2 separate regions of the Homo sapiens genome follow, and region 1 is linked to region 2. Evidence: fine-mapped expression QTL. A gene starts in region 2. The other region holds a variant in brackets. All regions are shown on one strand. Distances are from middle to middle. Region 1 overlaps WIPF1 (WAS/WASL interacting protein family member 1). Region 2 holds the start of GPR155 (G protein-coupled receptor 155).

Region 1 (4,394 bases), 73 kb after region 2:
GTTAATAGGTCATTTGTGGTGAAGCTGGTAAACAGTAAGTGCTCAATAAAAACTTATTAAATGAATGAATCAAATAAATAATTCCACTTTGAACAAACGAGGCCAGACTTAAAGCAATTTTTATTCCTAAAGATTCTGCAACTGAATTTTGTCAAGACTTCTTTATTTATTTATTTATTTATTATTATTATACTTTAAGTTTTAGGGTACATGTGCACAATGTGCAGGTTAGTTACATATGTATACATGTGCCATGCTGGTGTGCTGCACCCACTAACTCGTCATCTAGCATTAGGTATATCTAAAAATATGGAACGCTTCACGAATTTGCGTGTCATCCTTGCGCAGGGGCCATGCTAATCTTCTCTGTATCGTTCCAATTTTAGTATATGTGCTGCCGAAGCGAGCACTTGTCAAGACTTCTTTGCGTTTGAGAATTCTGTCATGAATATGGCCTAGGTTTGATGGCAAAATGATTAAGAAATGAAATGGAGTTAATTTTCATTGAGTGCCTAACATATGCCAGGTATCTTGCTTGAGTTTTGCATATTTACTTATTTATTTTAAAATTTATTTTTTTTCAATAAACCACCTACAAAGCTTCTGGATGTGTATTATTTAAGCTTTGTAACCATTTTGCACTTGAGGAAGCTAGAACTCAGACTTAAATAATTTGTCTATGGCCTCACAGGGAGCAAGTGGCAGAGCCAGAATCCAAACGCAGATTTGTGAGTGCACGGCTTTTGCTGTGACGCTGTAACCTCTCATTTGGCCTGTTCTTTCCAGCCAATGTGAAAGACACATAAAACAGTGATAGAGAGAGGGGCAGGAAAGACTATGAAGATGGGACAGTACAGTGAGAAGTCACATCATTTAGGGCCTTAAATTGCCCATCTGTAAGCCCAGACGTTTGGACTGGATGACCTCTGAGTGGGGTGACCACACGGCCCCATTTTCCAAGGCAACCCAGACTTATACCTGCTTTGCCACTGCAACTATTAGCACCCCTTCCACTCTCAAAAATGTTCCATTGTGGATCATAAATTCTAAGGTTGCCCCATCTGCGAAGTTCTGGCTCTTAATTTCTGTTATTTCATACTGAACCTAATAATACTTCTCTGATGACTGAAGCACGGTAAAATTTCATTTTCCAGGCCTGGAGGTACAGGGAGGATGGTAGGTGAGGTGACCCTTATGTAGAAGTTGCTTTGCATTTCTGATATGGATATTTTTTCAATCTAGGAGCTAGTGCTCCTTTCCTTTAAAAGTACACTAGTAGATCCCCTTCTAGTGGATTTGGCTCCAGTTAATTTGGGATCATTATATAAATATTTGTTTCCTACTTCACACTAATAGTGGCTACTCCTTATTGAGTGCTTACACTAAGGCTAAATGCTGAGTGCATTATCTCATTTAATGCATATATTAATGCTATAAGATAGTTCCTCACCTTATAGATAAGGAAACAGGTTTAGTGAAGTGACTTGCAAGTAAGACACGGAGCCAGGTCTTCCTAAGCTCTTAGCCATTCTTCTATATTGAGATCTGTATGTATACATACAGCAGATAATTAAGAAAGTTATCAGACTCCTAAATTCCCATTGGCCTTTCCTGTATTTATCAGTATCCATGCCAGTCTTTGTAATTTCATCTTCCATTGCTTCAGCCATCCATCTTTACCTCCTAGTACAAACATCTGCCTCAAGTAAACAGATTTTGACTAAGATGCAGATTCTCGGAAAAAACGAAGATGGGATTAGCAAGTAGGTACAATGAATATTTACTTACTTATACAAACCTTTTTTTGTTTGTCTTTCTTTTCCACAGTTTAAAACCGAAAACAGACACTTGTTTTTTTGTTTATATTTACATAAACAATACTTAAAAGAAAAACCACCAGTTGACACCATATCATTCTGCTTTTCTTTATTGTCTGGCTAACTTACAAAGATGCAGATGTCTAGGGTAGTCTCTACCCTACCACTTACACTATCCTGATGACACAGATAGCAAAATGTGTCTGTTTACATAGTGCATGGTATGAAAAAAAAGTTTTTCTTCCTCTACGGTCCTTGACTATAAGGAGGGAAAAATTAATTTCATGCCAACATTTTTGGGGAACTTTAACAATCATCCCATTTCTGCTACTAAAATAACAAAACTGGTATTACACTTTAAAATATAAAGACCTAACAGTTTTTACAAATATGCAAATAATCTACTACTTAGACATAAAAAAAAGTTGATTTCTTTTAAATCACAAAGTAAGGCACCATTGGATTAAACATTTCTCCTGGCTTTTACTAAATAAAATGCATAGTGAAATAAATACTGAACACTGAGTTTTAATACTGTAATACATTTCAATATAAAATAAGAGGTGAATGTTAAAATACTGTATTACATGTTGAATACATTTATCTGAAAATGTTATAAAAAAACACACATGTAAGCTCTGATTTCAGGGAAGAAAAATTCATTTTTGTAATTTTCCATAGTTTAAGATTTTACCACAGAACTTATTCATAGTTTTAGATGCAATTAGGTTGCAAACTTTCAAAGAAAGG[G/T]TGTAGGTGTATTAATGAAACAGTCACTTAAACACTACATTCTAAAACAATCTATTCTGGATGAATGGCAACTTTGAGCTATCACCCTGTTTCAGATTTAGAACGGTACCTGCCAAGTTCAGATATGCAAAGGAATTGTCCAATTCTTACTACCCCTTATAAAATTCAGACCCACTTTCTCTGAGTCAGACTTTTCTCCGTCATATTTTCTAGGAAGGGCAAATTCCATCTTTTGTGAAATGGGTCATTAGGCTTTATCATAGGGATGTTTTTCACTGTTGAAATCAGATAAAAGAATCCCAAATAAATGATGCTGCTAAATTACCAAACTGCTAGAGATTAAAAAAATTTTTTTTTAAAAAGCCAACACTTTGCCAAGCTTGTTATACCTTATTATTTCTTGATTCTCTTTGAGTAAAAAGCCCAAATGACTGTATGGAAGAGAGATGAATGGTAGAGGAGAGAGGAAACACAGGTTCTCTAATGTACTAAATCAGGACTTTGGCAAGGAAGTTATAGAAATATAATATATTCAAATCAGTAACTTCATAATTTATTAGACATCCCATTTATTAGAACTCTAAGTTCTTTTGCTTTTATATAAATGAAACATTTATTCTATAAATAGAAATGTATTTTTCAGAATTTTCTTTGGGTTGGTTTCTTGGTAGCATCTCCCAGTAATACATGAATAACATACTGAAACCATGATACAATGTTTAGGTAGATATACATATACATATGTGGTCATGTGTTTTTAAAAAACAAGTAATGGTAATTTTAAACAAAACCATGTAAAATATCTAAGTGGAAATATTTTTTCCCAACTCTATAGCTAGATTTAAAAGTCCCAGTAAAATTTTGTAAACAAAATCATATAAGAAAAGGCAAGGCTGGCTCTTCCCTATGGTCCTTTAGTGGAGCTATATTTGCATAGATCCTAGACAAATGATGCAAAACAAATTCCCTCCAATTTCCACTAGCAATCTCCCTAATTCGCTCAACCCTTACATAAGCATCAGATTTAGATTTTTAGAGTTTTGCCCACCAACTCAAATCGGTTCCCTTCTTCTTCCATGTTTCTGATTTGATATATTTTCCTGACTTTTTTCCCCTCCTACCAAGCCTTCCTAGTCTCTCCCAGCCTCAGGAGCTTGCTCAGCCAGAAAGGAACAAAGGCTGCTTCCATTTCACAAGGCAGAAGTCCAGCTGACAAGTGGAGTGCGTGAGCCAGCTGGTTCTGAGCCCAGAAGTCCCGACAGGCTTTCCATTTGTTTCCAATGGCTTTATTCCACATGACTTTAGTAAACCGTACTCAATCAATTTCTGACCTTGGTACTTTGAAGCAACACTTGTATACAGATATTAAGGGAAGAGGGAAGTTAAGGGAGGAAAATCGAAGGTCAAACTGTGTGTCAAACAAGGTGCTGGGTCCTAATTTTATTTTTAGTTGCCTCTTGAATCGCTCAAGCCCATCTTGCCTTTTTTGTTTTTTAAACAAGAGGTTTCTGCACTAGCTTCCATCTTCCAGACTCGTGCTGTCTAATCCAGTAGCCACCAGCCACATGTGGCTACTGAGCACTTAAAAATGTGACTAGTCTGAATGGAGATGTGCGGTAAGTGTAAAATACACTCTGGATTTTGAAGATTCAGTACCAAAAAATAATATAAAATATCTCATTAAAATTTTATGTTGATTACAGGTTGAAATATTTTGGATGCATATTAACTTCACTTGTTTAAAATATATTAGAAATGTAAAAATTGTATATGGGGCTCACATTATATTTCTATTGGACAGCTCTGTCCTAGAGCCAAGCTCGGACT
Region 2 (4,394 bases):
AGCCCTTAAGACGGTGTGTACTTGGAAAGGCAGTGCTAAACAGGAAAGTGATAAATTAATCCAGTCTTCTGTTCACTTTCAAAAGTGCCTAGAGTATTAATAACTCATTCTGCTTATAAGCCCTTACTTGTACAACACGAGCATGTCAAGGCATTCCAATAATATTTTTTAACCAACAGTTTAAACTAGCAGAAGTTCAGTGGAGAGTCAAACAGATTCTGAGCTTTATGGTTTATCAACTCATAAGTTACTTAGTCTTTCTGAACCTTTGTTTCCTCAACTGTAAAATGAGAGTAAAAACCTCCCTATAGGGATCAGTCATAGCAGCTCACGCCTGTAATCCCAGCATTTTGAGAGGCCCAGGCAGGTGGACTGTGTGAGCCCAGGAGTTTCAGACCAGCCTGGCCAACATGGCAAAACCTTAGTCTCTACAAAAAATTAGCTGAGCTTAGTCATGCGTGCCTGTTGTCCCAGCTACCTGGGAGGCTGAGGTGGGAGGATCACCTGAGCCTAGGAGGTCTCTGCAGTGAGCCATGATCACACCACTGCACTCCAGCCTGAGTAAGACCCTGTCTCAAACAAAGACCTCCTTAGAGGGATATTGTGTGGATAGAATATTTTATATACAGCTTATCACAGAGTAGGCCTTCAAAAAACGGCAGCAATTGCTATTAGGAACTGTTGTCTTACTACTAATAATGATAAAAAAGTAAACATGTTAGTTCTTCAAACATAACTGGTAAAAGATCCACCAACTAAAAAAAGAGGGATGGGATGCGTCATAAATTTATCAGTTTTTGTTTTATACCAAACAATTAAGATAAGTTGAATTTAATTTGGTTTGATAGTAAATGGTTAACAGTGAAGGCAGAGCTCTTCATTTTTCTCAGGGTGATGGTCAAATAGTTGTAGCAATGTCCAAGATTAACTTTCAATTCGTTGAAAAATTAAAAAACAAAAAAACAAAACAAAAAAAAGGGCCGGGCGCAGTGGCTCACGCCTGTAATCCCAGCACTCTGGGAGGTCGAGGCGGGCGGATCACCTGAGGTCGGGAGTTGGAGACCAGCCTGGCCAGCATGGTGAAACCCTGTCTCTACTAAAAAGACAAAAATTAGCCGGGCTTGGTGGCAGATGCCTGTAATCCCAGCTACTCGGGAAGCTGAGGCAGGAGAATCTCTTGCACCCGGGAGGCAGAGGTTGCAGTGAGCCGAGATCCTGCCATTGCCCTCCAGCCTGAGCAACAGAGCAAGACTCCGTCTCAAGAAAAAAAAAAAAAAAAAGCAATCTGCCCCTCCCCATGAGGTTTCTTTTAACGTTTCTCAGTATTATAAAAGAAATACCTGCTGAGGTAAAGTCAAAATAATCAAAATGACTTTAAAAGTTTCATTTCATCCTAATCTTTTTTAAACGGGAAGATAATATGCTTTCTAAAGCATATTTTAAAATGAACAGGAACCACAGCAAGGGAAGTTTTAAAAAAAAAATTACATCCAGCCTTTTTATCTATAAAAACAAAGCTTGTTACAGAACAAACACGTTCACAGTAAAAGACCACTCGCTGAGGCACGAACTGAAGAAATGCTACTGTACTTACAAACCGCTTCTAGCCACATCACATTTGGCTTAGATCACATAAACGAACCACTGATACTGTAAATAACTGCTATTAAGTGAAAATGCGGGGGGAAGGCGAGGGTTGACTAACTTCATAGAGAAAGCTTTAAACTCTCAGGCTATTTCTCAAACATCCAACATCCTTTATCCCGTGGGATAAGTGTAATACAGTGTGGTACTATTAGAGCACTCTTCAACATTAATAGTCGCACCATTCACCCACTCCTACCTACTTGCAGGGCGCCAAATGTCCTCCCTAGAGACCCAGGGTAGGGAGCGCTGAGCACTGCCTCCTTGCCTCGTCTGCAGGGACAGACTGTGGCCCTCCAAGATAAGGGGCGCAGAGAGTTCCTAACCGAATAGGCTGCTCGGAGAGCAGCTGCCAGCCAACCCCTGGGAAGGCAGCTGTGGAAGTGGAAAGGCAGCCAGGGGTCTTTGCCTGGCGTAAGAAAAAGGTGGTCGCTAGTCTTCCCAGGGCACGGGAGTCACAACGTCATGGTAACTAACATACCCCAAAAACGGGTAAGGGAGAAAATTTGGCGCAGTGCTCCAGGTGCCTGGGCAGAAGCCTTCGGAAGGGCCAGATACTGAGGGTACCCTCGGGATAAAGGGAAGAGTCTAAGAAAGACAGGGTGGACGCCCGTGCAGTGAGGAGCTTCCCAAACTAGGGATGGCAGTTCTGTCTCCGGAGGGGACGAGACACCCCCTCCCCCGCGCGAGCCTTCCCGGGTGATCTCACACGTTCCACAGGCAGGCGCTGCGGGGCAGAGACAGCAGGTCCAGACAACGGGCCGCGGGGCCAGGGCGCAGAGGGTCGGCGGCTGCCCACGTGCCCAGGCCTGAGGGGCAGAGGCAGGGGTACCCCGTGCCCGCAAGGGAGAACCAGGACCCAGCAGGTCCGCGCTCCAGGGGCCCCTCTCACCTGCTTCGTCTGCAACCTTGGAGTGGCGAGGAGAAGGGAGCTGGTGCTCGCAGGGTGCCAAGCAGGGAGAAGACCACCGTCATCTCCCGCCCCCAGCCCTCTTCGCCGAGCGCAACCGGGTGCCAGCTGCAGCAGCTTAGGCACGTTCCGATAAAGTAAGGTGGGGTAAGCCGATGCGGCCCTGTCAGCTCAGCCCCTCGCCGGCCGCGAGGCCCCGCCCCCGCCCCGCCTTCAGGCCCCGCTCCCTCCCAGCCCCGCCTTCAGACCCCGCCCCCAGCCCCGAACTTCCAGCAAGACGGGCCGCTTCCCGCCCTCGAGCCCCGCCCATTTCCAGGAGCCTTGAGCCCAGAGTCTCCGTCCCGCCCTCAGGCCCCACCCACAGCCTCGGGCCTCCGAGCCACACGTTCCCCAACCCCGCCTTCAGTCCCCGCCCCCTCCTCCAGCCTCGGAGCCCCAGGGTACCCGGCCCCGCCCTGCCGGCTGGGAGCCTCCCAGCCGCGATCCTCCGGGGCGGGACTTCCGGCTTCCCTGCTCCCACAAAATGGTAGCCGCCGTGGGGGATGTCCAGTTTTTTTTCCTCTTCCCAAGTACAGACGCAGAGCAGACTTGTCTTTCCGCTTAACCTCAACCTCGTGTGATCTGCCAGTTTCGCTCCCGGTTAGCCCAGGACTTTTTATAGCATAGAGTTTTAAAGCAAGGGCTTAGAATCAGACCTGGGTCAAAATCCTGCCTTCCACCTTCACCAAGGCAGTGTGACCTTGACGTTCCTACATAAGAGATTAAAATGTAAACCCTTAGCCCTGAGCTTGTTTTAGAATCTGGGCCCCGTCCATGACTGCTTCTATTCTATTGCGGTACGGGGGTGGGGTGGGGGTGGGGAACTACATGCATGTCCACTCAGTATACTGAAACTGGTTACATTGATGGAAAACTTCCAAAGCTTCTTGAAATAAAGGTATTGAAACTATCCTCACAGGGTTTATAAGAATTCTGGACAAAAATATAATTAAGCATTAATCAGGCTACACTTTGACCCACTTCCTTGTAACCCGAAAGTCGGGTAGAGCTAGATAGTACATTTGTATCCCGTTGTCCCTATAGATAGGCTTTCTGATGTTAAGAGTCGTAAGGCTTTTTAAGAATTGCTTAAAATGTTTTTCAGACGCCAAATTCCAGCGAAACAGCTGATGCCAGCCAGCTTGAAGACCCCTGCCACAGAAGAAGGGAATCAGCATGAGAATACAGCTTCTTCATCTCGCTGTCCCATGACTTCGCCCTGTACTCTTCAGCCAATTAATGATCTCCACACTTGGGACCACTCTAAAACCCTTAAGAACCTGAGACTCAAAGTCCTCCTGGAGACGAATTTGAGGTTTCCTCCTATCTGTGTTTGGTGGCCCTATGATTAAACCTCTTTCTCTTCTGCAACCTGGTGTCCCAGTGTATTAACTTGCCATGGGCATCAGACAACAAACCTATATATAGTATCCCAAATATGGTGCTCCACTTTGAAACCTGAAGAAATCCTGCAATTGAGTTAGCCTTTTGAAATAAAAATTATTTCAAATTTTAAAATATTTATATATGTTTCCACTTAAGATATCTACAAGCATTTGTTTACAACCTTTTATCTTGCTTTGCATCTTAAACATTTCTGTATGGCAATTTCCGTGTCTTCCTATCATCTCGGCCATCTTAGTGCAAAGATACAAAATTGTGTGGCTTATTAAGAAAAATTACAGTAAGCTAAGGGTAGGTTAAAGGATCTGAAACTTAGCAGGAAAAATGAGCAGAAATTAAAGCTATAAAAGGCATGGATCCTGCTCCAGTTCTCTTTGCTTCTCCTTTGTTCTCTGTC

The links. PIP is the estimated chance that this variant, and not a neighbour inherited with it, causes the effect. A credible set is the group of variants that fine-mapping cannot tell apart.
Region 1: its variant is the best candidate, but not a certain one, in a credible set for the expression of GPR155 in whole blood (INTERVAL, PIP 0.60).

What each region holds. Positions count from the first base shown.
Region 1 is chr2:174,557,663-174,562,056 of GRCh38, forward strand. It overlaps WIPF1 (WAS/WASL interacting protein family member 1), which reads right to left. Exons shown (of 8, transcript NM_001375834.1): 8 at 1,912-4,394. It also overlaps the pseudogene RNU6-5P. Among named protein-coding and RNA genes, the nearest start is that of WIPF1-AS1, 15 kb to the right of the region's middle. The variant G/T (reference allele first, on the strand shown) is at 2,568.
Region 2 is chr2:174,484,337-174,488,730 of GRCh38, forward strand. It overlaps GPR155 (G protein-coupled receptor 155), which reads right to left and starts at 2,693. Exons shown (of 16, transcript NM_152529.7): 1 at 2,537-2,693. GPR155-DT (GPR155 divergent transcript) reads left to right here and starts at 3,052. Exons shown (of 3, transcript NR_183819.1): 1 at 3,052-3,080; 2 at 3,699-4,394. RefSeq lists silencers at 2,208-2,390, 2,654-2,833 and an enhancer at 2,244-2,313.